3 separate regions of the Homo sapiens genome follow, and regions 2 and 3 are each linked to region 1. Evidence: fine-mapped expression QTL. A gene starts in region 1. Each other region holds a variant in brackets. All regions are shown on one strand. Distances are from middle to middle.

Region 1 (10,248 bases):
TTGCATAGAAAGATGTGCTGGATCTGTGCTTCACAAACTTTAATGTATGGTATGGTGAGTCACCTGGGGATCCTGTTGAAATGCTAGATCTGGTTAAGCAGGTCTGGTGTGGGCCCAAGATGCCACATTTCTAACAAGCTCCCTGGTGATACCAGTGCTGCTGGTCCAAGAACCCCAGATTGAGCAGCAAGGTGCTAGACATCGTCCATTTGTCCCTGCTGTTTCTCTTCACCCTGTTCTGTGCCCTGGAAGGCTGACTGCATGAACTATATCAGCAGGCTCCAAGACTCTAGCTTCCAGTAGGGTTTACTAATGAGGAGCACTGGCAGGAGATCAGAGGGCAGGAGGAGAGTGAGGTCAGAGGTTTTTATTCCTCTGAGGATAGCTCCCTACTGAGTTGCTGTGGGTTGGCTCTGTCCCTCTACCAAAGGCTGTAGCTCCTATCAGGTAGGTCTCTGCAATTTTTCTCTCTTGCAGAATTCCAGTACCTGCTCTCCCCTTTTCCCCTTCAGGCCTGGGATGGTAACAGCTCTGTACTATTACCAGCCCTGGAGTACTGCACCATCCCTTGTGGCTCTTAGTAAATCCTGCCTATACTTCTGTAAATGGTCCTTTAGTAAGCATTCCCCAGCTCCTCAGCCAAGTGTGCCATCTGTTTCCTGGTGGGACCCTGGCTGCTACAAGCGCTGTCCAATGCAGTATTTTTTATAAGAGCAGAAAACTGGAAACAAGCTAACTGTGCTTGTTTCTGTTTGTTTGTTTGTTTGTTTGTTTGAGAGTCTTGCTCTGTCACCCAGGCTGGAGTACAGTGGTGCAGTCTCAGCTCACTGTAACCTCTGCCTCTCAGGTTCAAGCGATTCTCGTGCCTCGGCCACCTAGGTAGCTGGGATTACAGGCATGTGCCACCACACCTGGCTATTTTTTTTTGTATTAGAGATGGGATTTCACCATGTTGGCCAGGCTGGTCTTGAACTCCTGGTCTCAAGCAATCCACCCCCCTTAACCTCCCAAAGTGCTGGGATTACAGGCATGAACCGCCATACTCGGCCTCAACTGTGCCTTATTCTAAAATGATTAAATGGGCTGGGAACAGTGGTTCATGCCTGTAATCCCAGCACTTTGGGAGGCCGAGGCGGGTGGATCACTTGAGGTCAGGAGTTCAAGACCAGCCTGGCCAACATGGCAAAACCCCGTCTCTACTAAAAATACAAAAATTAGCTTGGTGTGGTGGCGGGCATCTGTGATCCCAGCTACTCCATAGACTAAGGCAGGAGAATCGCTTGAACTCAGGAGGCAGAGGTTTCAGTGAGCCAAGATTGCACCACTGCACTCTAGCCTGGATGACAGAGTGAGACTCCATTTCAAAAAATATAAAATAGAAATAAAAATTAAATGATTAAATAAATTATGGTACGTCTGCTGAATGGTGTTTCATGCTATCATTTATTTATTTATTAAAATTTTTTTGGAGATGGAGTCTCGCTCTGTCGCTCAGGCTGGAGTGCAGTGGTGTGATCTCGGCTCACTGCAACCTCCACCTCCCAGGTTCAAGCAATTCTTCTGCCTCAGCCTCCCAAGTAGCTGGGACTACAGGCACATGCCACCATGCCTGGCTAATTTTTTTGTATTTTTAGTAGAGACAGGGTTTCACCGTGTTGCCCAGGCTGGTTTCAAACTCCTGAGCTCAGGCAATCCGACTGCCTCAGCCTCCCAAAGTGCTAGGATTGATTACAGGTATGAGCCACATCGCCGGGCCGCAATCATTTTTTTAAAATGCAGCAGTCTGTATTTACCTACATGGAAAGGTGCCCAAGACATTTGTTAATGGAAAAAGAAAAAAAAAAGCAAGATTCAAGAATAGCATGCGTAGTATGAACCCATTCATTTACAAAAAAAGTAAATTATCCATTTGTTAAGGCTTGGAATGCAAGTGACAACAATGCTGCTCAAAATAAACCTCACCAAAAAGAATGTGGGGAGGGATTTTCTAACTTAGTCTCTTTCTATCACTTGGTTTTGCTTTCTTTTGTGGTGACTTCACTCTTAGGCAGGCTGTCTTCAAGTGGTGGCAAAGTGAGCACCAGTTTGGCTGACATCCTGATAGCTGGCAACCTCAGCAGAGAGGGCCTCATTCTCAATTGCTTTAGCAAAAATCCTGGGCTGGGCTGGGCACAGTGGCTCATGCCTGTAATCCCAGCACTTTGGGAGGCTGAGGGAGGAAGATCACTTGAGGTCAGGAGTTTGAGGCCAGCCTGGACAACGTGGTGAAACCCCGTACCTACTAAAAATACAAAAATTAGCCGGGCATGGTGGTGGGTGCCTGTAATCCCAGCTACTCGGGAGGCTAACGCAGAGAATCACTTGAACCCAGGAGACAGAGGTTGCAGTTTGTGGGGTGCAATTGTGCCGCTGAACCTCAGCCTGGGAGAGAGAGTGGGACTCCGTCTCAAAAAAAAAAAAGTCCTGGGCTGAAGCCAATCAGGATATGTGCTAACCACTGAAGCACACAGACTGTGAGTAGGGAAGAAAGGCTTCCCAAAAGAAAAAGGGTGTCCAGAGGGAATATTTCATAGCAAACACTTGTTATCGTTTTTGACTGCCCAGCATCTGAACCCCCTTCCTACATTTGGGAGTGCCCTACCTTCTGAAGCAGAAACTACCTCCCGCTATTATATGAGCACATGACCCAAGTTGGGCCAGTCAGGCACTGTCACCTCAGCCTCTGAATCTGAAGCCAGGAACACCAAAAAGGGCCTGAACCAACCCCATCTTCCTACAGGGTGCAGCTGCGGCATGAGATTTGGGTCATTGTTCCTGGCTTTGGGGCCTCCAGAACTGGTTCTCAGGCTCTCATGGATCTGTGAGCTACAGAAGAACCTTGTACTAAATCCTGCAGCTTTTCCAGCACCTAAAACAGTGTCTGGAAATGGCAGGCACTCAATACATATTTGTTGAAAATGGAAAGAGAGTTGGACTCGATGTCAGAAGACCTGAGTCCTACTCACAGCTCTCCTGCAGAATAGTTGTGGAGTCTTTGGCAAGACACAACCTCTTTGTGCCTCGGTTGCCTCCTCTGCAACCTAGGGATGATCATCTGGGCCCTCCCCGGTGGATGGCAGGCGTGCAATGAAGATCAAACGTGGGTCTCCAACTTTAGCATGCATCAGAATCACCCAGAGGGCTTGTTAAAATATAGGTTGCTGAACCCACACCCAGAATTTCTGATTCAGTAGATCTTGGGTAGGGCCAGAAAAATCTGCGTTTGTAACAGTGTTGCAGCTGGTGATGGTGCTACTGCTGTGTGGGACACACTTCAAGGACCGCTGATAAAGAGAGAGAAGGTATTTCATTTTCTTTGTGACCATTGTAAATGAGGTTGTGTTCTTAATTTTGTTCTCAGCTAGAATGTTATTGGCATATCAAACTGCTATTGCTTTTTATACATTGATTTTCTGTCCTGAAACTTTACTGAATTTGTTTATCATTTCCAGGAGCCTTTTGGCAAACTCTGTAGGGTTTTCTATGTATAGATTCATACTCTCCGCAAAGACAGAGTGTTCGACTTTTTCTTTTCCTATTTGAATGCCTTTTATTTCTTTCTCTTACCTGGTTGTCTGGCTAGGACTTCCAGTACTATGTTGAATAGGAGTGGTGAGAGTCTTCTTCCAGCTTTTGCCTGTTTAATATGATGTTGGCTATGGGTTTGTCATAGATGGCTGTTATTATTTTGAGGTATGTTCCTTCAATGCCTAATCTGTTTTGAAGATTTTTATTATAAAGGGATGTTGGATTTTATTGAAGGCCTTTTCTGCATCTATTGAGATGATTATATGGTTTTTGTTTTTGATTCTGTTTATATGGTGAATCACATGTATTGATTTGCGCATGTTGAGCCAACCTTGCATTCCAGAAATAAAGCCTACTTGATCATGGTGAATTGACTTTTTGATGTGCTGCTGGATTCTGTTTGTAGTATGTCATTGAGGATTTTTGCAGCTATGTTTTTCAGGAATATTGGCCTGAAGTTTTCTTTTTTTCGTTGTGTCTCTGCAAAGGGCATGAACAGACACTTCTCAAAAGAAGACATACAGGCAGCCAACAAACATATGAAACAAATGCGCAACATCATTAATCATCAGAGAAATGCAAATCAAAACCACAATGAGATATCATCTACACCAGTCAGAATGTCAATTATTAAAAAGTCAAAAAACAATAGGTGCTGCTAAGGCTGTGGAGAAAATACACTGTTGGTGGGAATGCAAACTAGTTCAGCCACCGTGGAAAGCAGTTTGGAGATTTCTCAAAGAACTTAAAATAGAACTATTTGACCCAGCAAACCTACTACCAGGTATATACCCAAAGGAAAATAATTCATTCTATCAAAAAGACACCTGTATATTCATTGCAGTGCCATTTACAATAGCAAGGGTATGGAATCAACCTAAGTGCCCATCAACAGTAGATTGGATAAAGAACATGTGGTACAGAGCCAGATGTGATGGCTCACACCTGTAATCCTGGCACTTTGGGAGGCCACAGCAGGTGAATCACTTGAGCTCAGGACTTTGAGACCAGCCGGACAACATGGTAAAACCCTTTCTCAACCAAAAATACAAAAAATTAGCCGGGTGTGGTGGCACTTGCCTGCAGTCCTAGCTACTCGGTAGGCTGAGGTGGGAGGATTGCTTGAGCCTGGGAGGCAGAGGTTGTGGTGAGTAGAGATTGCACCATTGCACTCCAGCCTGGATGACAGAGCAAGACCCTGTCAAAAGAGAGAGAGAGAGAGAGAGAGAGAGGGAGAAAGGGAGGGAGGGAGGGAGGAAGGAAGGGGGATAGGGAGGGAGGGAGGGAAGAGAGGGAAGGAATGAAAGAAATGTGGTGCATATACACGATAGAATATGATGGAATACTACGGAATACTATGCAGCCATAAGAATGAACGAAATCATGCCCTTTGCAGCAACATGGATAAAGCTGGAGGCCATTATCCTAAGCGACCTAAAAAGAACAGAAAACCAAATACTGCATGTTCTCACTTATAAGTGGGAGCTAAACATTGAGTACACATGGACACAAAGATGGGAACAACAAACGCTGGGGATCGCTAGGCCAGGGAGGGATGGAGGGGACTCTGGGCTGAAGAACCTCTTGGTGGGTATTATGCTTACTGCCTGGGTGACGGGATCGTTGGGACCACAAGCTTCAGCGTCGCGCAATTTACCCATGTAACAATTTACCCATGTAACAAACCTGTACCCTTTAATCTATAATAATAGTTGAAATAAAAGGTGGGGGAGAGAGAGAGAACAGGAGGCGCTTTTAGCCCCAGCAGCCTGGCCCAGATGAAGGAGCGACATTAAGGGCACCGCAGGACACTGTGAGGAAACAATCCGTTCGTTCCTTAATTCAGCCGCTTCCTTATTCTAGAAGGGCAGGTTCAGTGCCAGGGGCTGCGGTGGGGTCAGCGGAGCCCGCTAGTAAAGTCAAGGCCCACGCAGCTGCGGACTCAGACCCGGGCCCAGGGCCCTGACCACAGCGTGAAGAGGGGATGGCGTGGCCGCTCCCACCTCTGCCCTGACAGGAAGTTTCTGGAGCCCCGGGACAGGGCGGCGAGAGGGCGCCGAAGAGGCAAAAGGGAACACGCGGGTCTGCGGCGGGCGCTCCTCTGAGCGTCCCTGGACTCCCGAATACGGGCACTGGAGGTGCGCAGCCCCGGCCCTAGCGCGCTCCCGGCACACAGCAGGCGCGCGGCCCTAGCCCCGGCGCGCTCCCGGCACACAGTAGGCGCGCGGCGCGGGCGGGTGGCCGGAAGGGGGCGCCTGCGGGCGGTATCCGGGGGCGGAGCCGACGCGGCCGGCGGGGCGGACGGGAGCGGGCCGCGCGTGGCGGCGGCGATGGGCGAGGGCGGGCTGCCCCCGGCCTTCCAGCTGCTGCTGCGCGCGTGTGACCAGGGCGACACGGAGACGGCGCGGCGGCTGCTGGAGCCGGGGGCGGCGGAGCCAGCCGAGCGCGGCGCGGAGCCGGAGGCGGGCGCGGAGCCGGCGGGGGCCGAGGTGGCCGGGCCCGGGGCCGCAGCGGCGGGGGCAGTCGGGGCTCCGGTGCCCGTGGATTGCTCGGACGAGGCGGGCAACACCGCACTGCAGTTCGCCGCGGCCGGGGGCCACGAACCGCTGGTGCGCTTCCTGCTGCGCCGCGGTGCCTCGGTCAACAGCCGCAACCACTACGGCTGGAGCGCGCTCATGCAGGCGGCCAGGTGAGGCGGCGGGGCCCGGGGGCCCGGGACCAGAGTGGTGCCCGGCGCTGGCCCGAGACGCGGTCCCCGGCGGCCGGATGCCCCGGGAGGTGAAGAGTTAAGGACTCCTTAGAGTTGGAATGGTAAACTTTGAGTAGTCTTTTGTAAACTTTGAGCATAGACGTGGAAACACTTTTGAATTAACATAAAATCAGATTCTTAGAAATTTTGGCCTTTCAGAATAGAATCTGGAGACAGCGAATAGAATTGTAGAGACTTAGAACCTTAGAGATTTAATTCATTTCTTATTGCAGTAAGAGTTTCCTCAGAACCTGCCTTCCCTTCCTGGCTTGGCGTTGAGGGTGCTGCGAGACCCAGGCAGAGTCCCCACCCAGGGCATTGGTGGGCAGGCCAGGCAAAGGAACGAGCTTGACCGGAAAGGTTTGAGTAGCTGTGGGGCAGGTGACCCATTTTGGAGACGTGGGGGAAGGTTTCTGGTAGAAAAGATGTTTATATCCACGTGGAGACCTGCGGATACCTGAGAATTAGCCAGGACATTACAAGTGGGCTGTGGGAAGGCATGATGGGAGGCCCATGCAAAGGCTTGGGTGCACGAGCTGGTAGGACTGGTAGAATGAGGTATGCGTAGAATGTATGAGTAGAATGATGTACTAGTCCTCCCTGGAGAGAAGGCAGATGCCAGGGAGTTGGGGGAGTGTGGGAGCTGAGAAACGCTAGCTATCCTAGGGTGCTAGGGAGTCATGGAAGGTGCTAGGGAGTCATGGAAGGTTCTAGGCAGAATGAGTGACAGGATGAGAGTTACGTTTTGGAAAAATTACTTTCCTTGAAGTGTGAGAATAGATTAGATACTCTAGGGTAAGCTAGAGTCAAAAAGGCTGGTTAGGTAGAGTTTGCTGCAGTCTGAGTGAGAGGTGATGGTGGCCTAGACCAGAATGGAGACAGCGGAGGGAGGGCACCCAGATGAATTTGTGATATATTCAGGGAGTAGATCAGCAGGAGTTGACGACTGGCCCTTGGGGAGGGGTTAAGAGAGACAGCAAGGATGGCATCTAGAGATCTGGCTTCTGTGAAGCCTGCCATGATATCTCCCTGTTCTCTGGTCCCTCCGCAGCAGAAAGGCCTCTGTGGTAGCATCCATCACACCATGTTAATGCTGACTGGCTTCCTCAGTACCCAAACCTGGCCACACATCAGAATCACCAGGATGCTTGTCTAAGTGCAGATTCCTGAGTTCCTTTTCTGGAGATTGTGATTTAGAAGGCCCAGGGCAGTGAGGGGAGTAAGAGACAGGGACTCTGTGTGAGAAGAGGCTCCCCAGTGATTCTCTTGTATGGTAGGTTTGGGAGCCACTGATGTGTTATGTGTGTCTCATCTCTGCAATCCACCAAGTGCGTGCACAGGGGCCCTGGTGAGCCCCCTGAGGAATTTACTGAGTGAGGTTTGTGACTACAGCACTGACATGCCTCAGAGTGTCTCAGAGACCCCAGATCATCAGTTTTAACCAAGTTCTGCAGGATAGTCTTGAGCCTGGGTATTTTAAAATGTGCTGTTCCTCAGTTGGTGTGACACCGACTCTATATTCAGGTAGCATCTCTGCCTGTGTTGAGTTGTGCTCCAGCTTTCTGCTGCGTAATTCATAAGAAAAGGTCAAGTTGAGGAGTAGTATATATGGAAGACTTCCAGAAGGATGTACAGTGTGTCTGTCCCTCACATCGGGGTAGGCAAATGAATGGCCTGTGTGCTGACACCTTCCAGCCTTGTGCTCTTCTTCCTTGGATCTGGATACGCCCCCAGAATCCTGCTCAAAACCACACCCCTGGCAGCCACCACGCTGGGTCTGAGCAAGCATCTATTTATCGTCCCAGCTCTCTGTGTGGATCAGGCCAGACTATTAGACACCCTGTGCCTTTGGTCTTTTGTGGGTGTTTTAGTATTAGAAATGGTGACCTTAGTGTTTTTTCCTGTTCTTTTTTTTTTTTTTTTTGAGACGGAGTCTCGCTCTGTCACCAGGCTGGAGTGCAGTGGCGTGATCTCGACTCACTGCAACCTCCGCCTCCTGGGTTCAAGCGATTCTCCTGTCTCAGCCTCCGGAGTAGCTGGGATTACAGTCACGTGCCACCACGCCCAGCTACTTTTTGTATTTTTAGTAGAGACCGGGTTTCACTGTGTTGGCCAGGCTGGTCTCAATCTCCTGATTTCGTGAAACGCCCACCTCGGCCTCCCAAAGTGCTGCGATTACAGGCGTGAGCCACCGCGCTGGGGCATGTTTTTTCATGTTCTTAAAATAATAGGTAACCTTTGGCCAGGTGCGGTGGCTCACGCCTGTAATCCCAGCACTTTGGGAGGCCGAGGCGGGCAGATCAGGAGGTCAGGAGATCGAGACCAGCCTGGCCAACATAGTGAAACCCTGTCTCTACTAAAAATACAAAAATTAGCTGGGCGTGGTGGCACGGGCATGGTGGCACGCACCTGTAGTCCCAGCTACTCGGGAGGCTGAGGCAGGAGAATCGCTTGAACCTGGGAGGCGGAGGTTGCAGTAAGCTGAGATCGCGCCACTGCACTCCAGCCTGGCGACAGAGCGAGACTCCATCTCAAAAAACCAGAACAAAACAAAACAAAAAACAACCTTTATTGAGCACTGACTTTCTGTCAAGCACTGTGCTAAGTGCTTTAAATGAATTAAGTCATTCAATCCATACAAAACCTTAGGAAGGAGGTACTATTGTCATCCTCATTTCATAAATGAGGAATTGAGGAACAGAGAAGTTAAATAACTTGCTCAAGTAACATAGCTACCAAGTGGCGAGTCAGATTCACACCTAGGGAGGTGGCTCCAGAGCCTGTGCTCCCAGCCATGAATCCTGTAACTGATAGTTTCCCTCTTGGTGTTGGTGCCTGGAAGCGGCTTGCCAAATTTGCCAGAGACTTCTCTCCAAGGGACAGGGTTGCATAGTGTTTACCTTCCTTCCCTACCCTTCATTTCCTGCCTGCCAGTGGGGCAGAGCTGGACTCTCAGCCCAGTGCTTTGAGAGGGGAAAATGTGTGCCAGCTCTTTAAACACAGGTGTTAATTGCTGAAATTCATCAGTAATCACAGCACCTGTTCAGAAAGCCCCTAGCATGCCCATCTCCGGCAGTTACCTATTAGAAACTTAGCATCCACAACATTATCTCAGCCTTGCTTGGATCCTTTTATATTTTCAGCATAGTTGAGTGCTCTCTTGGGCTACTCACTAATTCAGAAAACATTCCAAATTTCACTATTTCTGCTCTAATTCACCCCTTTTCTTCCTCCTTAAAAATTGGTTATACTGGAGCTTCGATTTTGAGTCCAGGTGCAACTTTTGACTCTATCACGTTCAAATTGAGAGGCTTTAGATTAATTGCTTTCCACTGTAATCTTCAGTTTCCTAATCTGTGAGTTTATCTCGGGGTTTATTAAGATCAAATGAGATAAAAATGTGACGCACCTTGTAATCTGCTGTTAGGGATTATGCTAGATTTTATCTCATGCTTGATAACTAAATAGTGTAATCTTTTAGAAATGTACTACAGTGGAGGATACACCAGTTCTTCAGGGATTTCCACTGCTCACCTCTGGACCTTCCCCTATGTGGTTATGCCATTTATGCATTCATTTACTTGGCTTGTTTGACCAAATTTACTGAGCTCCGATGTGGATCAGCCACTATGGTAGGGGCTGGGGAAACAATATGCGTGGAACCCTGTCCTGTCCTTGGAGAGCCTGCCACTGAATAGGAGAGACAATTAGGGAAAGAGGGCTCACGTGCAGCCAGAGGCGAGCCCGTGGAATTAGGTGCTCAGAAGAGGGGCACTGACCTAGCCTGGTTGAGGGGTGGTCTGGAAGCTGCTCAGAGTGGGTGAGATATGACTCCTGAAGCAGGACACGGTGGGGGTGTGCTGAGTAGATGAGGACAGGAGAGTCCTCTGGTGGGGTCAGGATGGTGAAGGTGTGGGGAAGGCGGGAAGGTG
Region 2 (10,248 bases), 310 kb after region 1:
GGGCTGAAAAATCAGTAGTTGATATTACGTTCGAAACTTGAGAGATGCTGGAATAGAGAAAAGACTAAATAATAAAACACTAAATAATAAAATTAGAGAATTTCAGGGAAAGAAGCCATGGAACTCTCTATCTTTTAATGAATATCTTAAAATGATAACAAAGGACTTTCTAAAATCCAAACTTTGAGACAGTAAGCAAAGCTGAAAGATTGTGAGCAATTCATTTAGGGTCTCTGGGCCCACAGAGCTTCCCTATTGCAGGTGAATTTACCAGAGGAGTCAAGAGCCTTGCTTGCCTGCGTCAGCGCTGTGCCAGCAGCCACCTCTTTCCAGAGGGCTCCTCTTCTCTCTCTCCATCTTATCACAGCCTCTTCTTCTGACCTCATCCAACGCTTCTGCTTCAACATCAAAGGAGGACACTTTTAAGCACTCCCTTTGTGCCCACAGATTCATGAATTCACTTCATCCCCACAATAACTCTACAATAGCAGTCAGCAAACTACAGCTCATGGGCCAAATCCGGCCTACTCTCTGTGTTTGTAAATAAAGTTTTATAGGAACACATTCATTTACCACAACGTCCTTGGCTGCTTTTGTGCTACAGCGGCAGAACTGAGTAATTGCAACAGAGACTATATGGCCTATGAGACCAAAAATATTTACTATCTGGACCTTTATAGAAATTGTTTGCCACCACCTGCTCTGAAGATAGGTACTATTATTATCCCCATTTTATAGGTAGAGAAACTGAAGCTCACGAAAGTTTAATAACTTGCCTGAGGCCATGAAGCTGATTAAGTGACTGAGCTGAGATTCTAGCTCAGCAGTCTAGCTACAGACTGGCTCTTAACCTCCACGGCATGCCTCCCAGCTTCGTGTCCACCCACACTCCTCAGTCAGCATAGCCTCTCAACATTCCAAGGTTACTCATACCCAACATTTTTAAATGACCTGTCTCCCCCCATTTCTTCTTAGTAACAAAACAGGAATGAAAGGGCTTTGCAACTTACTTGCCTTAAGTGGAGGAGCGGTTAAAAAAAAAAGTGCTAGGGAATGACAGAAAGACAGAGATAAGCAGAAAGCTCTCATCTTTATTTTTTATATTGATGCAATATTTGGGCCCCAGTGCAACATCATGAAGACCCTCTAAATTGAGCCAGGCTTTCTACTCTTAAAAAAGGAAAAGAAAATATGTCTGTGCCATTTAGAGCCATGTTTGGCTTTCTTTTTTGAGTGACTCACAAAAATAGCCCAATTCTCCAACAATATTAGTGGGGATCCTTATGCCTCACATTAAGGGGACAGCTTTGACCAGAAAAGCTACTCGACTAGTCAGCAACAACTGAGTGTCCTAGAACCCCAGCAGAGAGAGGAGGGAGACAGGATAAGCCCAAGGTAAGGCCTTTCCAGAGAGGGAAGTGTCTTCATTTCCCATTGCTGCTGTGAAAATCTGAACAGCTTCAAGCAACACAAATTTATCTTACTGTCTGGAAGCCAGATGTCCTACATGGATCTTGACAGGCCAACATCAAGGTGTCAGTGCGGCCAAGTTCCTTCTGGAGGCTCTAGTTCCAGTATCTAGAGGCCACCTGCATCCCTCAGCTGGCATCCCCTTCCTCTATCTTCAAAGTGAGCCATAGTCAGTGGAGCCTTTCCCACACTGTATCACTGTCTCTGCCTCGGCCATGTTTAAGGACCTTGTGAATACATGAATACATTTAAGGACCCTGTGAATACATTATCACCTGGCTAATCCAAGAAAATCTCCCTATTTTAAGATCAGCTGATAAACAACCTTAATTCCATCTGGAATGTGAATTTTCCCTTTACCACGTGACATAACGTACTCACAGGTTCTGGGGATTAGGATGTGGCCTTTTTTGGGGGACTGGGGGAGTGGGGACAGGGTCTCACTCTGTAACCCAGGCTGGAGTGTAGTGGTGTAATCACAGCTCACTGCAGCCTCAACTTCCTGGGCTCAAGCAATCCTCCCACCTCAGCCTCCCAAGTAACTGGGACTACAGGCATGCACCACCATACTCAGCCTATATATATATATATATTTGTAGAGACAGGGTTTCTCCACGTTTCCCAGACTGGTCTTGAACTCCTGAGCTCAAGTGATTCTCCTGCCTTGGCCTCCTAATGTGCTGGGATTACAGGCATGAGCCACTGAGCCCAGCCAGGATGTGGCTATTATTCTGCCTGGCATAAGACAACTACAAAGGTAGGCTTTGAGAGGACTGCCCTTCCCTTGCTCCATGGTAAAGTCCTAGTGGGAACTGTGCTCTCCCTCTTGACTCTGGCCAAAAAAAAGTCCTTAGGGAATTGACCCCCTTTTTTCCCAACCAGATAGGAGAGACCTGATGAGAACTGCCACTCCCACAGGCCAGGAGTCCATCCTGACTGCCTGAAACTGAAGTTCATACAGGCACCCCAAGGGGACGCAAAGCTGCAGAATACACATGGTGCATCTTTCTCACAGGCCAGGTTTGCTCAGAGACATGGAGACGAAAAGGTATTATTTTTAACTTACGACATAGATATATTATTAGAGTGTTAAATATACATGAATTTTCAAGATACAAGAATAAACTTTAAAGAAATGCCATGCTTTCCACTGGGCTGCTGTGGGCTATTCCCTCTTCGCTCCCTTCCTTGAGAGTGAAGCGTATGCCTTCACTGCCTTTACGGACAGAGTGAAGCATATGCTTCTCTGCCTTTATGGACATTTCCAGTGGGGGGTGGGGTCTAAGTAAGACAAATTTTAGCTAAATAAAAGGGACTACTCATTGTGGGTATGGGATCAGTTTGTCAGAGCCAGGAGGGACTTTGGAGAACATTCTAGGCTGAACTTCTAGGGCCCACTCCAAGTCTACAGCCAGACAGTTGGGGCACAGGACTGGCCTGGGCTTCCGAAGCCTTAGGCAGTGCCCGCTGGCCCAGGTCATGGCCAGCCTCTAACAGCTCAGCTGCCTTAGGGGTTTATAGCATCTCCTCTCTTTATATAGCATTGTGACATTTGAATTTTCAGCAGCCCAGCACAGTAGGTAGTCTGCGAGGCTAGGCTCTGAGAAACCAGGATGCCATTGAGTGGACCTAGACAGATGCATGGGTGGCAGGAGATTCCAGACAACCCAGAGGTCAGGGTCAGGCTCAGGGTCGAGCTTGACCTTCCTTGCAAGAGTCCATGCTCCACAGGCAAGGAAGGCTGGCTGGAGGGCGTGGTCCCTCATCTTCCTCACCTCTGCTGTCCTGCACTCTTAAATGCACACCAGCAATTTCAGTGGCTCAGGATTGCATTTGCCATTTATATCCTTTCACTTCAACATCTGCATGACTTTTCTCAGTTAGCTGTTGCTGCAGATTGAGTGCTGAGCTCCAGCAGCTCAGACCCAGTGGGGTTTGCATCCTCAACTGGGAGGCGGTAGATAGGAGCGAGGAGTCAAGCACTCAGGCTCTGGGACCACACCCACCCGGGGCAAGGCCAGTGCCACCACCTCCTATTTGTGTGACCTGGCATCTTAGGTTGAAGTCCCTACAAACAGAGCCTGAGATGCTTGGGAAAGTAATTTATTGTGGAAGTACTCAGGAGAAGGGGAGGGAAGCAGGATGAGGCAGGAGGAGCTCTGTCTTGGATGGATACCAGTTTAGCCTGGCCCCACAGGGGTCTCCGGAGCACAGACAGCACCACAGAGCTGATCCTAACTTTCAGCAGGGGGGCCGGAGTTTTCCACCAATGTGAGTCAGTTGTTGGTTGCTCTCTGTGGGGTGTGGGGCATGGAGTGGCTCCCATGGCCAGGAAGCTCCCCTTAGCTGAGGGCAGTTCTCCAGAGAAGGGAGTGAGCTGTCAGCAGCCCACCCTCACTGCAGCCGGGCGGGTGTACCAGCCCCAAGGAGGGGACTGCACCTGGGAAGTTTGCTTAATTCTTTGGACCTTGCTTTGCTCATGAATCTTTCCAAAGTGAGCATAATAACAGCGCCCACCTCCCAGGGTGGGGCTGACGGACTGTTTAGCACAACAGCTCAGAAAGGGCTTGAGAGTTGTTATTTTTATGATGTTAGGATTGCTTGCAAACTGGGGGTACATGCTAGTTCTTTGAATTGGGTTATCCTTGCTAAGTGTCATGTGCGTGCGTGAGTGTGTGTGCGTGCCTGTGTGTGTGTGTGCCTGCGTGTGTGTATGTGTGTTTAGCTCTCTTTAAGCATCCCAGAGACAAAGTGGTTCTAGATGAGGGATGAGACAGGGTCAAGAAAAAGAAAAGGAAAGCTACCCAGGGTTTGGCAACATTAGACTCCTCTCCAGAGGGAGTTTAGTGGGCCTCTCCCTCACTCATCCTGTCACTGTTGGGGGTTTGGGCTGAATACCCCTCCCCATTTTCCTACCCCATTCCCACCGCTGTTTCCTTCCACTTTTGCCCCTTTCTTGTGATAGTAGCCTCTTGAGGGTGTGAACATAGGTCTCCATGTATGGTCTCCAACCCTAGACCTGGCCATCTCATTTGCCCCAACTCAGGTCATCTGCTTTCACTCCAGGAAGCTCCCTGCAGAGCCAAGTCCCTGGAAGGGCACAGGATTTTCCAGACCCTGCCCTCTGCCACGTTTCCAGTCCTTTGTGATATCACAGCTCTGATCTGTCACTGTCATCCTCAGGGATGGTTATGGCTGCCCCTCCCTACCCCCTACTACTGCCTAAACTGCCCCAAGCCCTTTCAGCATAAGAGAATGGGCCCATACCCTGGCAGGGAGGCAGGGGGCTTGTCTGAAAGCAGGGGCTACTGCTATTCCCAAATTTCTTCTTTCTACTCTCTGGACTTTCAGGAAAAGATACAAGCTATGCAACATTGAAAAGCATGATTCTGGAACTTTCATGAGAGCATGCACATGTGTGGAAAAACTATTAAGATTCCCCAAATCCAAAACCTTTCCCCTAACCCCTGAATCTTCCAGTAAGTTGCTACTTTAGAAAGGAGAACGCAGTATATCTGCACTTCCTACACTCGGGACACCTCCTCGTGCTCTAGAATGCACATACCCTAGTTTGAGAAGCACCTCAAACTGTTTATACTGCTCTATGGTGCCCCCCAAGATCCCCATCCAGCCTCATCCCCCGTTTGGCCTCTCCCCAACCCTGGATTCCGGGCTGCTCCTCCTTCCTTCCAGACTTGGCAGCGTCTTTCCCCCTCTTTCTCACCGTCTAGAAGCAGAGTATGTGTTCACAGCTTCCTGCAGCAGGCATGACCTGGCTCTGCATAGGATCTGTCTCCAGGGCCCTCTAATGGTCAAGGAGAACCAAAGTGAGAGCTCTGGCTTTCATTTTGGTTCTGTGGAGCCCTGGGAGAGCTTGTACCTCTCTGGGAAGAGATTAGCTAGATGGGGGATCCCACGGGCCCCATCCAAATCTAACAGCCTGGGAGCACTGAACAAAGTGGTCCTTGCAACTCGGTTGTCATAGCAACAAAGACACCAAATGGTTCACAAGTGGCAGAGCTGGTTATTTAACTGTCAGCAGGTGGTCAGGAGGTCAGCTATGAAGATGTGGGTCCCTCGATCTACTCAAGAAGTGGACATGGTGAGCCCAGGGTCTAGACCATGGGGTTGGTCAGATATTAGTGCAGTGATGATAATGGCTACTAGTGACCAAATAAGCAGCGTAGGCCAGGCATTGTGCGTGATGCTGCACACTGGATTAATTCACTTCATCGTGCATTCAACACATATTTGTTGACATATGTGTAGCGCCCTGTTCTGGGAGCTGGGGACTTAGAGATAAGTCAAGTTACGCTTACTTCAGTGGGGAAGACAGACAAGTAAGTGGACTTGAGCCACATTGGAGGCAAGCACAGGGTGATCCAGGCTCACAGAGGAAGAAGTGGCCACCAAGCCTGATGGGGCAGAGAGATGGTTTCTCAGAACAGAGGAGCCTGGGCTAAGGTAGGAAGGGTGAGTAGCAGCTGTGCGGGCAAAGTAAGTGGGAGGAGAGGGAAGGGCACTCTGGAGGGATAGACTTGCAGAATGGGTGGGGGGCGAAGTGGGAATATGAATAAATGAATGAATGAATGCAGTCCTGTTTTAGGACTCACTGCCAAGGCAGGGTATGAGAAATGTGATAGAGAATTGAGCACAAGTCAGTTGGTAAAGACTGCATAGGATCTTTACCATCTCTATCTTTAGCACATCTTGAATGTGCTAAGGAGCTCAGTGTTTGATCTGCAAACCTCAGGAAG[C/A]CATGGACAGATTTCACACAATCAGACTTGAATCTAGGAATGAACCCTTCCTCTGCTCTGTGGCGATGGGTGGATGGGGCAGGATTCATGGCAAGGGTGCAGGGAGGCTGTTGCTGTTCACTGAGTAAGGAATGATGGTAACCAAACTCAGGGCAGTGGGGCTGGAGGGTTGGGACTGATTAAGGAGCTAGTTGTGAGCAGACAGAACCAACAGATTCCAGTTATGGCTTGGATGAGGGTTGAAGAAGAGGAGTGAGTCTAAGATGACTCCCAAGTTCCTGACATTGTCAGAAATGGAAAACACAGGAGGAGGAAAGGGCCTCTTGGGAAAGCTGGTGGATTCAGCTTGGGACATGTTGCGCTGGAGGTGCCTGAGAGAATCCAACTGGAAGAGTCTGGTGGGAAACTGGAGAAAATCTGAGGCTGGGGGGAGAGATTTGGAGTCCACAGCACACAGAGAACAGTTGTGGCTGGGGTCATGAACTAGGTGGCCCAGGGAGAGTGATGGGAGCAAAGAGCTAAGGACAGAACACCAGCATTTAGGGATGGGCAGAAAGGTCAGGAGCTGATGATGAGGAGTATGAGCAGGAGTGGCCAGGCAGGCACGAGGGGAGCCAGCAGAGAGCAGCATGGAAGCCACCGGGTGAGTTTCATTATGATGAATTGACAACCACTGGGCAAGGTAGATAGGATTATCCCTTTCTCAGAGATGAAGGAATTGAGGCTCCAGGAGATTAAGAAGCAAAGTTTTCAGCTAATCAGAGGTGGAGCTGTGATTTGAACCCAGGTCTCTGACTTCAAAATCTAATAAGCTGTTTTTACCATACCATGTTTAGCAACACAGGGTTTGGCACAAAGTAGATGATCAATAGATACTTGCTGGATGAAAGGATGGATGGATGCATGGGTACTGTCAGCAGCAAAAAATGCTAAAAATTTTTAACGAACAAGCAGAAAGATCTTGGAGCATGCCTGGAAGCAAGTCCACAGAACGGAAGCAGCTTAGAACTTTTTATAGCATTGCAGACGTGGTGATGACAAAGGCTTGCCTTCCTTCCACTGCTCTGTTAACGATCTTTTAAAGTCCTTTCAGAGCCAGTGTTTTTTTTCCCCTCTTCTTTCCATTCTTGCTTGCAAACGAAAGATGATTTTAGAATCCAGGCCTTCTTTATTTTGCTAAAGTACATGATGAGTAAAATGGCCTCTCAGTCAGCACTTTCCAATTTTGAAAGATGCTAAAAACTGATCTTTAAAAGCATATTTTTCTACTTTATGCATCAAAGGGCCATGAGGCCTGCTGGAGGGGATGGATGAACTGCAGGAAGGTGGCACCACCTGCAAGGCTGGGCCTCACTGTGGAGGGCAGGAAGCGGCTGGGATGGGGAGCAGGTGTTTGGGCCAGGGCCTGGCTGGTCTCCTGGTGGCCGCCCCACCCGTTCTCTTTCAGCCTGTTCTTCTCCATGGGACAGGACGCAGCTGGATCCCAATGCCCCAGAAAGCAACAAAGACCCCATTTACCTGACCCATGAGAGCCTCTGGCTGATGCTCAGTAATTGTCTGTTGAATGAATGAATGAGTCACAGGGGTCACTGTACACATTCCTATTAACCACACTGAGATAATGAATGTAATCCCATGTATAGAGCTTTCAAAAATAGATTTTCCTTAGAAATAAAGGTGGACACTCACTATGTGCTAGGCACTGTGTTAAGCACTTTACAAGGACTATTTCACTTAGTCTTCCCAGAAATCCGGTAAGGAACGTACTACCATTATCCTCATTTTGCAGATGAGGAAACTGGGGCTGAGATGGAAAAGGAGCGACCAGAGGCCACCCATGGTTTGTTGGTAGAGCTGAGATGCGAACAAAGCTCAAAGCAAGTCTGAAACCTCTTAATTGGGAAGCTCTGTAGGCTCCAGGAATTTCTTGAGGGATTAACTATCAGGAAGGTAGAAAGGGCTAGAACACTGTGCAGGGCAGCAGAGTGTGGTTGGCTGGGGTCTTGTCTCTGCCACAAACTCCCCAGGGGCCTTAGAAGCTCCTTTCTCCTCATCTGGCCTCAGTTTTCCTATATGTAAAGTGTGGAAGAAAGTTAGATGATGCTTCCATGGACTGCAGGATTTGCCTGCCCTGGTGGGAGGAGAACAGGGGAGGTTGCAAGGCCCCTGAGAGCAGTCAGCTTTAGCCTCCAGCCTGTACAGACTTGCCCTAGGGCTTGCCCATGAGACCAGGGTGGACTGACTGCAGGAGCCACAGGAAAGCCAGCCCTGGAGAGGGCTAGAGAATCCAGGCTGGGCTGGGGTTGGGGGTGAGGTTCTGCCCTGCCCACCTTCCCAGGCAGAGCTCTGGGCTAAGAGCCAGAGGTGAAGGAATGTTGTCTGCCACAGCCTTGAACCCTTTATGGGGTGCTGAACATCTACTCACCTTCATGATGTGTCCTTCCATCCACAGGGGAATGATGTGCGGATCATCCTTGGCCAGTTTGACCAGAATATGGCAGCAAAAGTGTTCTGTTGTGTAAGTAAAACAGTTGTATCATTCGTGTCTTTGGGGAGGTTCACGAAGCTTTTTCCCATACTCATTATCTCCCTGCTCAGTCTGTGAGTGGGATCACAGGACTGGAGCCTGGGTTCCTGGAAGCAGAAGAGTTGCGTTCACTGTTCTTTCCTCTTTCCAGGGAGCTAAAACCCCAGGGCTCAGAACAATACCATCATCGAGGAACCAGGGACCTCAGTCTAACCCATAGTCTAAGCCTTGTTGGCTAATTCTAAGTCTGCTCAACTTAGCCAGGGAGATACCAGAAATCAGGGTGAGGCTGAAGTGACTCAGACCCCCTCCCTGCCCTGTAGGTAGGGCTCAGAGTCTTAGGTTAGGGACAAATTATCAACTATTGATTTTCTCCTCCTGAATCCTTTACAGCTGTCTAGTGACAGATGACAAAGGTGACCTTTTTATGCCTTATCTCATTTAATCTTTTCAATAACCATGTGAAGCAACTATGATTTTCCCATTTTACAGATGAGGAAATAGAGCTCCATAGAGTAAAGGGACTTGTCCAAGGGCCCTCAGCCAATTCATGGCAGAGCCAAGGCTCCATCCCCATTAACCTGATCCCCAATCTAGTCTCTAAAAAAAAAAGGTTTTCTCCATATGACTTCTAGCTTAAGTTAGATGTAGGGGACAGAACACAGGAACTAAGTCAGTTTCCATTTTGATGTCCCAGCTCCCAATCCTCCCCATCATGTCAGGAGAAAAGTCAACAAAATGAAAGCCCAGGCAGGTGAGTCACTGTCTGCCCAATAAGCTTCACCTTTTAGACTGAGGTCATTCTAGGCGTAGTGTCTGGTGACGGGCCGCAGATCTCTGATCTTTTTGTCAGTAATGTGGATGAGGTTATAAATAGGAATTCTAGAAATCATGAAATACATTGGATGACAGAGTTTGAGTGCAAAGAACTTTAACAGGTTGGAATGTTTGATTAAATCCAAGCAGAGTAAATGGTCCTAACATATTATATTAGAACAAATGAAGCTGCCTAAGTCCAAGTGGTAGAGGGATAGCTGAGGAGTACTGTGTGTTGAGAAGAGAAGGGACTTTGGATGTTCCAGATGACCCCCAGTTTACTACCGGGTCTGGCAACTAAGGTCATCAGCATGAGCACAGTGCCAGAGAGCCGAGGTGACCTCAAATTGCATGTCTACACCCAGGGCAGGGTAGTCCCTCTGCTCTTTGCTGGAGAGACCCCACCTAGGGAGACCTGCCCAGCTCCTGGTGGCCTGTTTTGGACAGATGTAGGAATTGAAAAGAGACAAGCAGCGAGGATAGGGTAGTGGCTGCAAGCCGTGGTCACGTGTGGTTATTTGAACCTGAAGGCTCAGGAGCAAAACGAGAACTGTCCGATCATCTTCTGATTTAGCCGGGAGAAGGGAGAGGCTGTGAGGCTGACATTTCAGGGGATCTTGGATGGAGGCTGGCACTCAGGAGCCAATCAGCTTGGGCTTGAGTCCCTGTTCTGCTACT
Region 3 (10,248 bases), 250 kb after region 1:
TTGCCACTCCTCTGGCCAGGTGGCCATGGATAGTTCAGGGGAGCCATCAGGCCCTGTGGTCTGGTCGTAGATTGGGTAGTACCTGGATGCCATCATTATCAGAAGCACTCAGGTCACTTCCTGGGGTGGGAGTGAAAGAATGAGATGCTATTTAAGGATCTTCTGTGGGCCAGGATGTGCTCAAGACTCCCTGGGCAACTGCTCAAAACAAAGAGAATGCTGGTGATCCAGGTTTAGCCTGGCTACAGACTGGGGCAAGCAGGGCGGTGGGCAAAAACCCCATTCAGTGCCCAGAGCTGGCCAGTATGGGATGAGCTGGGCAGTCTTATCCACCAGCCCCCAGGGGCATGGCAGCACCACCACATTAGAGAGCAGTTTGATGGTACCAATCATGAACCTTAAAAACCTTCACACCACCTTGTGGTTTAAATGGCATCTGAACAACGTGAAAGAGGGTGCCAGGCCCTGCCACATATTTGGTTAAGTCAGACTAAATTTATTCGTGATTTTTCTAATACTTTTACTAAACTGACTTGAACTTTATTTTTGCAATATTTGAGAACATATGGTTTACTAAATAAATAAATGGCATAAACCAAAAATGAAAAAAAAGGGTATTTGGCTACTCAATAAAACATTTGGTACCCAATAAAACATTTTTTTAGCTTTCCTTTGAAACTATCAAAACATGGAAAAGAAGCCAGGCACAGTGGCTCACGCCTGTAATCCCAGCACTTTGGGAGGCCAAAGCAGGTGGATCACCTGAGGTCAGGAGCGCAAGACCAGCCTGTCCAACATGGTGAAACCCCCATCTTTACTAAAAATCCCAAAACAAAAAGAAATTAGCTGGGCATGGTGGTGGGTGCCTGTAATCACTGCTTGGGAGGCTGAGGCAGGAGAATCGCTTGAACAATCGGGAGGCGGAGGTTGCAGTGACCTGAGATTGCACCACTGCACTCCAGCCTGGGCGATAGAGCAGGACTCCATCTCAAAGAAAACCAACCAACCAAACAAATAAACAAACAAAAAAACATACACATACATACACTCTCAAGGAACCAAGAGACCCCAATACTCATTGATATTCTAGATGTTTAGAAGCTTCATTAATTACAAAGTAGATGGCTCTAGATTGAGAAAATCCTAAGCTTTGCTTCCTAGCATTCCAAACCTTGCCTCATAAAATAACAATTGTGTTGAAAATTAACAGGTAGACCTTTTCCTTTCTCCCCTACAATCTGAGTTAGACTCAGGACTCATATCAACTAGAAAATTGGATAGCTATTGCCTCTACCTAACAGTTGCTGATCTCTGAGACAACCAAATTGCTTTTTTCTCTTTATTCTCATCTCTCTTTCACTAAACTCAGACAGAGCTATACATTCCTAGGGGGAAAAAAAACCTGGATGAGAAGAGGAGGGGAGCACACTAGATGTGAATTGCATTCTGGGAAGCAGAGACTTCCCACATGAAATTTTTTAGGCAGGAAAGAAAAACCCTAGCAGCAGTGCAGGAAGGGAATTTAATGTACTGTGTTGATCTAGAGTATTAGAAAATTGGGCACTGAGGGTAAAAGATGATGTCACTTATTTAATGTAGACCAGCCTAAGGTGAAAGCCTACTAGACACCAAAAACTGTGCTTAAATACTTATTCTCCGGCCTTCTGAGAAGTATATGCAATTAAAACGTAAATAGAAAACAGGGCCAAGTGCCGTCCACATGTGTCTCTTGATAAGCCCAGCCTGAAAACACTTGCTTTGCTTTTGAGGATTAATAAATTTAAAACACCTTTGAAAAAGTACTTCAAAAATAATGAAAAAAAGCAGAGTACTCAGAAGAAGTGGAGGAAGAGTCCATCTCTGAAAATGATCTATTGTAGGATAAAGAAGAAAACTTTAGAAAGATGTGTAGCCTCCCCAATCATATGCAGCAAAGCAGGCTCCATGAAATAGCCTGCAATTGGAGGATGGGGCGAAAAGGGAGATGATCATGAAAAATTCATAGGAAACTAAAAATGTCAATAACACAATACAAATATGTTAAAGTCAATAAGGCTTAAAACTGAGGCTGTTGAAAAGCAAGTCAGGCAACTCACAGAACAAAGAACCCGAATAGCTAACATGTCTATGTATCACCACTCAGCCACATTCCAGGCAAAGCACTGCAAAATCAAACAATAATGAAGTACCACTTTATCTCTGAAAGACTAACAAAAATTAGGAAGTCAGATAATATCAAATACTGGCCAGGATGTGAAGAAATGAGAATACTTATGTCCTACAGCTAGGGCTGTGGGTACAGCCATTTTACCAGAAAATAGTGAAAGCTAATATGCACATACCTTGTAATAAAATACAGTAAAATAAGATGCTCTTCTAGATTGAGGAGGACAAGGACTAAGAGATGCAATTATGAAAAGAAAATAGGACAGATATGGATTTAGAGAATGAGGAGACAACATACAGATAATCCTGTGGCCCAGAGGAGAGACAAGAATATATAGGAATATAATATAAATATATATATGATAAACATACTACATATGCTATATTTATTATGTATAATATATACAATATTATAAATGTATATGTAATAAATATGTTAAATATATTATAAAAATATAAATATAAAACAATATACACAATATAAATATAGCATAGTCATTTTATATATATATATTAGGTTTTTTTTTACTGAGTTGGAAATACTTGAGTGTATGGATTGTATACAGGTCGTGTATAGGGCTCTCTTTATCCCAAATAAAATCAAGAGTGCGATTTTTTTGAATTCCAGGAATAAGGGGAAAAAAAATCTTTCAGGCTTCCAGGTAGAGGAAACTGGGTACCTACAAATGAACGACAATCAGTGACAATCAAGCCAGCCCCAAATTTCTCCTCTGCATCACTTTGTAGTTTCAAAGGGGAGAAATGGTAGCCCAAGAATTTCATGCCCAGCCAAATTCTGCCGTGTGTCAGTGCAACACAGGGCCATCCTCAGTAAGTTGTCAACCCTTTATCCTTCTCAAGGTACCTATTAAAAAGTACTCCAGCGGGCTGAGACCTGAGGCAAGATTAATTCACATAGCCAGAATAGAGAAGAATAGATACAAAGTTGAAAACCAGCGGGAACAAAAGGAAACAAAAAAAGGGAAGCATTAAAAAAGAAGAGATGGCCAATGAGATGATAAATGCAAGGCCAAATATTTACTACAGCAATAAACATACATATTTTAAAATCTGTCCATATGCTCTTTTCAAGATGTGTATTTAAAAACAATCTTAATAGAATATGAATAAAAGGAGGATAAAAAAGTGACAGGCAAATGCAAGCAAAAATACAGTAAGGGTTGCAGTATTAATAACAAGCGTGATACAGTATCAAACAAAAAGCAATAAAATGACAAACAGGTTTATTTTATCTTGATAAATATTTCAATCTTCACTCGCTCAATGAATATCTATTAAGTGCCTGTTATTTGCACTAGGCAAAAGTATATATTGCTGAAAAATGAAGACATAATTGTGATGAACATTTATGCTCAAAACAAGATAAAATGAACACATAAAAAGCAAAAACAGTTGAAATACATGAAGAAATGGTCAGAGACAATAGAAAAAAGTTTAACAAACTTCTCAGCCTTTGATAGATCAAGTAAACAAAAATACAAAGCGTATGATAATATAATTAGTTTGGTTATATCTATTATGCATAAGTAGTCTAATAAAGAATTCTATAGCTTATGACTATAGATTTCATCTTTTTTCCAGCCACCATGGAACTTGTACAGAAGTTGATTGTATAATAGGCCACAAAGAAAATCTCAATAAATTCCAAAAGCAGACACTGCACTTGCCAAATTCTCAAAATAATGCAATAAAACTAGAAATTATAAGAAAACTAGAAATTAAATTTTAAAATACTCTCCGAAATAAATCCTTGGCTAGGAATTAACTCAAAGCCTCAATCACAATCTGTTCAGAAACAAACTTGGTTATGCGAAACAAGGCAGGAGAGCTCAGAAAGCTTGGTCTCCAAGTTAGGGCCCTAATGCTAACAGCCCTGGTGATGCCAGATGCTGGGTGACTGTGCTAGGGGAAGAAGGCCTGGGGAGCATGTAGGAGGCAGGTAGATAGTCATCCATGGGAGAAAGCGCACTAGTGTTAGGGTCCTATAGACCCGGGTTCAAGTCCTGCTTCTACCTCTTATTAGCTGTAGTGGAATTTTGATATCTTATTTCGGGGCTGCAGTCTACTTATTCCAAACCAGGGGTGTGGAGCTGTATCTGTGGTCCTCAACCCTCACTGAGCATCATAATCACCTGGAAAATTTTTAAATAATACTGATGCTTGGGCTAGATGCCCAGAGATTCTGATTCAGTTCGTTTGGAGTGGGACCAAGTCATCAGTATTCTTTAAAATCTCCCCCAAATAACTCCAGTGTGCCAAGAACCCCAGAGCTAGATGATTTCTCAGATGTCTGTTAGTTTTGAAGTCCAGCAGTGCTACTGGGCACCTGCAGTTTTTGCCCATGGAAGAAAGTTTCAGGAGGCTAAAGCCAGAGTAAAGCCAGAGAAACAGTGACGCAAAGCAATCTAATCAAAGCGTGCATTATCTCAAATGGTGCAGAAAATGTCAGTGCCAGTTAATATTTTGCACCCAACATGATTTAGACCCGGGGCACATATTGTACTCCAAGCCTATTGTAAACCCAATGGGCCATTTATTCACTGAACAGTAACCACGGTAATTACCCACAGGGAAAACATGAGGTTGTTCAAGCAACAATTAATTGTGGACCTGGAACTAATGGGACAATAATGGTAAAGTAGCAACCAGAGTGTGATTAAGAAATCACATCAGAAAGCCAATATTTTCCAAATTGTATTAGATAAGGATTTTTGGGGATGTGATGGTATATATAATGTCCCTGTCCTGAAATAGTTCCTCCCAGGTTTTTCTAATAGCTCCTTCTCCCACTGGTGAGCATAGGAGGCTTGCAGTGTTTTTAATCTTGTGAGAAGAATCACAGACAGTAGGTTTGAGGGGACTATAGAGAGCTTTATTTCCCGCACTCACTACGGGACCTAAATGTCAACTGAAGGCAGGTGTGCAGACCTTGATTTGGTTGGAATGATCCTCTTTGTGAATATGATGGAAGCCACTGATTCTTTTTTTCAGAAAAATGTGCATGTCTGTCTGCACATACATGGCCATGCAAATCCTTTCCTACAGTTTTCAGGGGGTTCACAGACACTTTGAAGCCCTTCTGTTCTCACTAGGTTGTGGTCCAGTCTTTGCTTGCACACCTCCAGACACAGGGATCTCACTACTTCTGATGGCAGGTTTTCCAAGGCCAGACAACTCTGATGTGAATGTTCCTCAATGTGTCCAGTTGAAATTTCCCTCTCATTAGTCCTCGTCTACCAAGAATCTTTGAACACTGACAAAAGTCATTCTACCTTTGACCTTTACCGGTCTTGGGGTGTCTCTCTGTTGGATCTTAGAAGATGGTTTCTACGGGGGCTCTGTAGCTTCAGGTAATGGCTGAATTACTGTTGTGTGGTCAGCTCCAATAGATAGGAGATCCAGCAATTCTAGAGAGTGGCTGTCTACCCTCTGAAACAGACATGGAAAGGGACAAATCTCTACTGCCCCCCACAAACTTTTGTAAGGGGAACGTGGTTCTAGGGTGACAGAAGAAGCGGTAAAGCAACTTTAGCTGGAGGCTGAGGGTACCAGGATGTTATTTCCCTGGATGCTTAAATTGGAACCTAGGATG[G/T]ATCAAATCCAGAGCTGCTGCTGGGACAAGCAAGGGTTTGGGGAGATGGCTGGTGGCAGCAAAGATTGAGCTTGCTTCATCCATGCCCTCTCTGGATCAAAGATTTGAATGAAACAAAAGAAGAGAAGGAGGGAGGGAGGGAGGGAAGGAGGGAGGACAGACAGACTAGAAGAAACCATGGAGAAATTATTTTATAATCTCAGAGTAAGAGAGGCCTTTCTTAAATATGACATAAAACCTGAAGTCATAAAGGAAAAAAACTGATAAATTCATCCTCATTAAAAAAAACCGTGATTACCTGGAAACGGCACTATAAACAACATCAAGAAACAAAGTACAAACTGGGAGAAAAATTAGCAACTTATATCATAAAGGGCTAATTTTCTTAATATAAAAGATCATTTCTATAAACTGATAAGGAAGACTACTAGTCAAATTAGAAAACAAGCAAAAAATGTGAACAGTTTCCAGAAAGGAACTACCAATTACTTTTACACATAGGAAGAAGCTGGGTGCGATAGCACACCTGTAGTCACAGTGACTCAGGAGGCTGAGGCCAGAGGCTTGAGCCCAGGGGTTCAAAACCAGACTAGGCAACATAGTGAGGCCCCTTCTCTGACAGATTTTTAAATTAGCTAGGCATAGAGGCATACACCTATAGTCCCAGCTACCCCGGAGACTAAGGCAGGTGGGGATCGCTGGAACCCAGGAGTTCCAGGCTGCAGTGAGCTATGATAGCAGCATTGTACTCCAGTCTGGGCAACAGAATGGACCCTGTCTCTAAATAATAAATAAATATATATATAAATAAAATTAATATAACAAAATAGAAATATTCAACTTCACTCACTCTAAGAAAAATGCAAATTAGAACTATAACCAGATAACATCTTTTCACCATCATACTGCAAAGATCAAAAACTTTGATAACTACCTTCTGTGGCTGAGGCTGAGGGAAGGAACAGAGATCAGAGGAAGTGTTATGGAAGGGGTGGCATTTAGGTTGGGCCTTCAGGAACAGACAATTAAAATCCAACTTAACAACTTAACTGGCACTTAAAAGAAAAAGAAGAAATAATAAAGAGAACGATGGACAGCTTTGACTATCGAGTGTAAATTAAAATACACACACATAAAATGTAAAGGCAAACTGAGATATTTGCAGCAACTATAATAGCCTGAGTTTGAACGCTATATATATAAAATATCTTCATTAAATTCAATCTGAAAAGCATTAGAATACCACTCAAAAAATAAACAAAGGACATGAAAAAGTAACTCCTAAAATAGGATATGCTACTAGTTAATAACCATAGGGAAAAGTTCAGCATTATCTATAACCATGAATGCGATATGATTCAGGGTTTTATTTGGTGATAAATCATTATAAAATTAGACAGAATAACATTTTTTACTCCCTGTGTTGGCAAAGATGTGGTGAGACTGGCCCTCTAATCATTCCTGGCTACTAAATTTGCAAACCGATAAAATGTTTTTTGGAAATAAGTATAAATCTTTAAAGACTCATATTCTTTATCTGGAAAATTTTACATCACAGACTCTATCTTATGGAAACATCCCAAAATATAAAACAAAAATGCTATGTACAAAGATGCCTGTAGAATAATATGATGATAATGACAAATTAGAAATAATCGAAATAACCCCAAATTAGAAACGATTCAGTAAATTTATGGTATATTCATATGCTGGAATATTGTGCAGCTATTATAAGGTTTACGAAGAGTTTTTAAGGATACCGTTAAATGGGGAAAAACAGTTCAATTGTGCATGTAGAATGATTTCAGGATCTTTTTTAAAAAATTCAATCACTGCATAGAAAAAGGACTGGGAAGGAATAGACGATAACATGAATGATGGTTCTTTAGGGAGGGGTAGATCATTGGCTATTTTTTCCCTTCTTCCTCCTTATTTTGCATTTTTAAACCTTCCCTTCCATTATGATATGTTACTCTTACAATAAAAAAGTTTTAAAAATATCTGTCCCTGTGTGTTTATGCTCTAAGTTGAAGCTAACAGTCTCTATTCCAGTAGGAAAGATGCTGGGTCACAGCTGTGAGGCTCATCAGTAAAAAGCGTTGTCTCTTTTGTGTTTTTCAGCTTTCTTTTGCTGCAACCACGCCTGTTCTAGCCGATAAGAAAAAATACCCTTATTTCTTTCGGACCGTCCCATCAGACAATGCGGTGAATCCAGCCATTCTGAAGTTGCTCAAGCACTACCAGTGGAAGCGCGTGGGCACGCTGACGCAAGACGTTCAGAGGTTCTCTGAGGTACGCTCGGCTTGTGTGGACACGGCCTGCCTTACTGCTTGCTGCTGTCATCTAGCAAAAGGCAATGTGGTTTAGTCAGGGATGGGTACTGTCACAGGGCTTTTAAGCATGTGTTGGTTAGTGCGATCAAAGCTGTTTCACCGTTGACAAAATAGAGCTGGTAGCTGAGGAATTTCACTGTGCATAGGACTGGTGGAAACCATCATCAGGAGTGAACCTTCCCTTTCATTCTTTTTATTGGCTACCTCGTGTGGCTTATTCCCTCAGTGGCCCTGTGGGCTTGTCTTTGTTACTGATGCTGTCGTGACCATCTAAGATCACAAAGTTCTACCAGGGGGTGTGTTCATCTGTGAGGAGAGTTTTGGGGAAGGGCTGGCTTGGACCGAAGATGCCAATGTCACCTTGGATGGGGTACAGAGTTTTGTTTGTTCTAAGTGACTTACAAACACACCTTAATATATGGTAGGCAATTTTTTTGTTTTGTGTATGTGTTTTGTTGTGGGGGAAAAAAAAGCCAAAATATGGGTAGTAAAAAATGTAAAAGTGTTGCTTTGTCCTAAGCCACCTGAATCATGCTTTCTCTCTGAAAGTTAACTCCTGCTTTCACTTAGGGGTTCATCTGCCTAGAACTTTTTCAATGTATTTGTTTTAAAGCCAAATGACTTCATATCATGTATGTTTCTTTTTTCACTTTACAACAGATCTTAGAGGTCTTGATTAACCTCATGGTTTAAAGGGACCTGGTGTTCTGTCAGATGGGTATATCGTAACTTACCGAGCCAGCCCCTCTGAACGTTGACCACTTTTCAATGGGACAACCATACTCTCATGGCTAGGTGTGCGTCTTGGCAGTAGACTTCTAGAAGTGGATTTGCTGGGCCATTTAAAAATTTGAGAAGGACTGACTTCCAAAAAGGCAGTTCTAATTTCTAGTCCCACCAACAGCATTTGAAAATTCCCATTTTCACATATCCTTACTAACAGTGGATATTAACAAATATTTGAAACATTAGCCTCACTCAGATGAGTACAAAATGGCCTCCTGTCTTTTTTCCCATTTGCTTTGTGCCTCCTCCTCTCCTTTCTATTCCCATGTGTGCTTTTGATACTTGGAGCCTCCAAAAACACAAGACAAACCAAGTGTTCTTAGCAGCCCAAGAGAAACAAACTTTAGCCGTGTGGAGGATTTCCATGTGTGAGTCAGGGGTCTAGACAGACCTCAGCCGGAGCGGTGGGGGCAGACACACAGCCTCTTGCCAGCCTGGGAATGGGGAAAGGCCGGGCAGGGTGGCAAGAAAGTTGGGAGTAGAACAGGGCTGGTAATCAGCAGACCTGGTTTCCACTGCAGCTCTGCACTTACCTTCTGAGGTTCTTGCCCCCTGTCTCTTCCATGGGAAGGAGAGACCACTTCATACATTGGCTGTGTGACCTTGGAGACGTTACCTTGCTTCTCTGAGCTTCGATTCCTCCCCTGTAAAATGGGGACAATAACTTCTTGCATGCCTCCCTGCAGGGCTTCTGCCAAAATCCAATGAGTAATGGATCTGAAAGAGCTTCGTAAACTGTAAAGTTCATACACAGAGAGGGTTGTTTTTGGAGGTGCGTGAAAAGTGGAAGTGTTTGGCCCCACTGTCTGTGGGTATCCAAACAAGGCAAGCTTTTCCCAGGCAAGACTGCTCGTCATCTTCCCACCTCTCTGTTTCTCAGCCCCTAGGAGGAGGCACAAAGGGAACTTGACCTCCAGCGGGAGTGACTCATTGCCAAACGCTGAAGAGGCTTTTGCTGAAAGGCCGCCTTCATAGAGAAGCGAGAAATGTTCTAAAATGAGAGTGAAACAAGTGGATGGTGGAGGATAAGAAGGACCCATCCCATGGCCCCATTAACACTGGACTCTACTAGGATTTAGAGAGACTTGCTTTTTCCTTTTTCTTTTCTTTTTCTTTTTTTTTTTTTTTTTTTAGACGAAGTCTCACTCTGTCACCAGGCTGGAGTGCACTGGCGCAATCTCGGCTCATTGCAACCTCTGCCTCCTGGGTTCAAGCAATTCTCCTGCCTCAGCCTCCCGAGTAGCTGGGACTACAGGCACGTGCCACCACACCCAGCTAATTTATGTATTTTTAGTAGAGACGGGGTTTCACCATATTGGCTAGGATGGTCTCGATCTCTTGACCTCTTGA

The links. PIP is the estimated chance that this variant, and not a neighbour inherited with it, causes the effect. A credible set is the group of variants that fine-mapping cannot tell apart.
Region 2: its variant is the best candidate, but not a certain one, in a credible set for the expression of ANKS6 in whole blood (TOPMed, PIP 0.88).
Region 3: its variant is the best candidate, but not a certain one, in a credible set for the expression of ANKS6 in lung (TOPMed, PIP 0.70).

Annotation. Positions count from the first base shown.
Region 1 is chr9:98,792,141-98,802,388 of GRCh38, reverse strand. ANKS6 (ankyrin repeat and sterile alpha motif domain containing 6) reads left to right here and starts at 5,834. Exons shown (of 15, transcript NM_173551.5): 1 at 5,834-6,256. The coding sequence starts at 5,898. It overlaps LOC124902229 (a long non-coding RNA gene), which reads left to right. Exons shown (of 2, transcript XR_007061689.1): 2 at 2,780-3,941. RefSeq lists enhancers at 5,570-6,070, 6,071-6,571 and a silencer at 5,692-6,311.
Region 2 is chr9:98,479,429-98,489,676 of GRCh38, reverse strand. GABBR2 (gamma-aminobutyric acid type B receptor subunit 2) reads left to right here. Exons shown (of 19, transcript NM_005458.8): 5 at 8,680-8,745. Among named protein-coding and RNA genes, the nearest start is that of GABBR2, 220 kb to the left of the region's middle. The variant C/A (reference allele first, on the strand shown) is at 6,228.
Region 3 is chr9:98,539,696-98,549,943 of GRCh38, reverse strand. It overlaps GABBR2 (gamma-aminobutyric acid type B receptor subunit 2), which reads left to right. Exons shown (of 19, transcript NM_005458.8): 3 at 7,901-8,071. Among named protein-coding and RNA genes, the nearest start is that of GABBR2, 160 kb to the left of the region's middle. The variant G/T (reference allele first, on the strand shown) is at 5,780.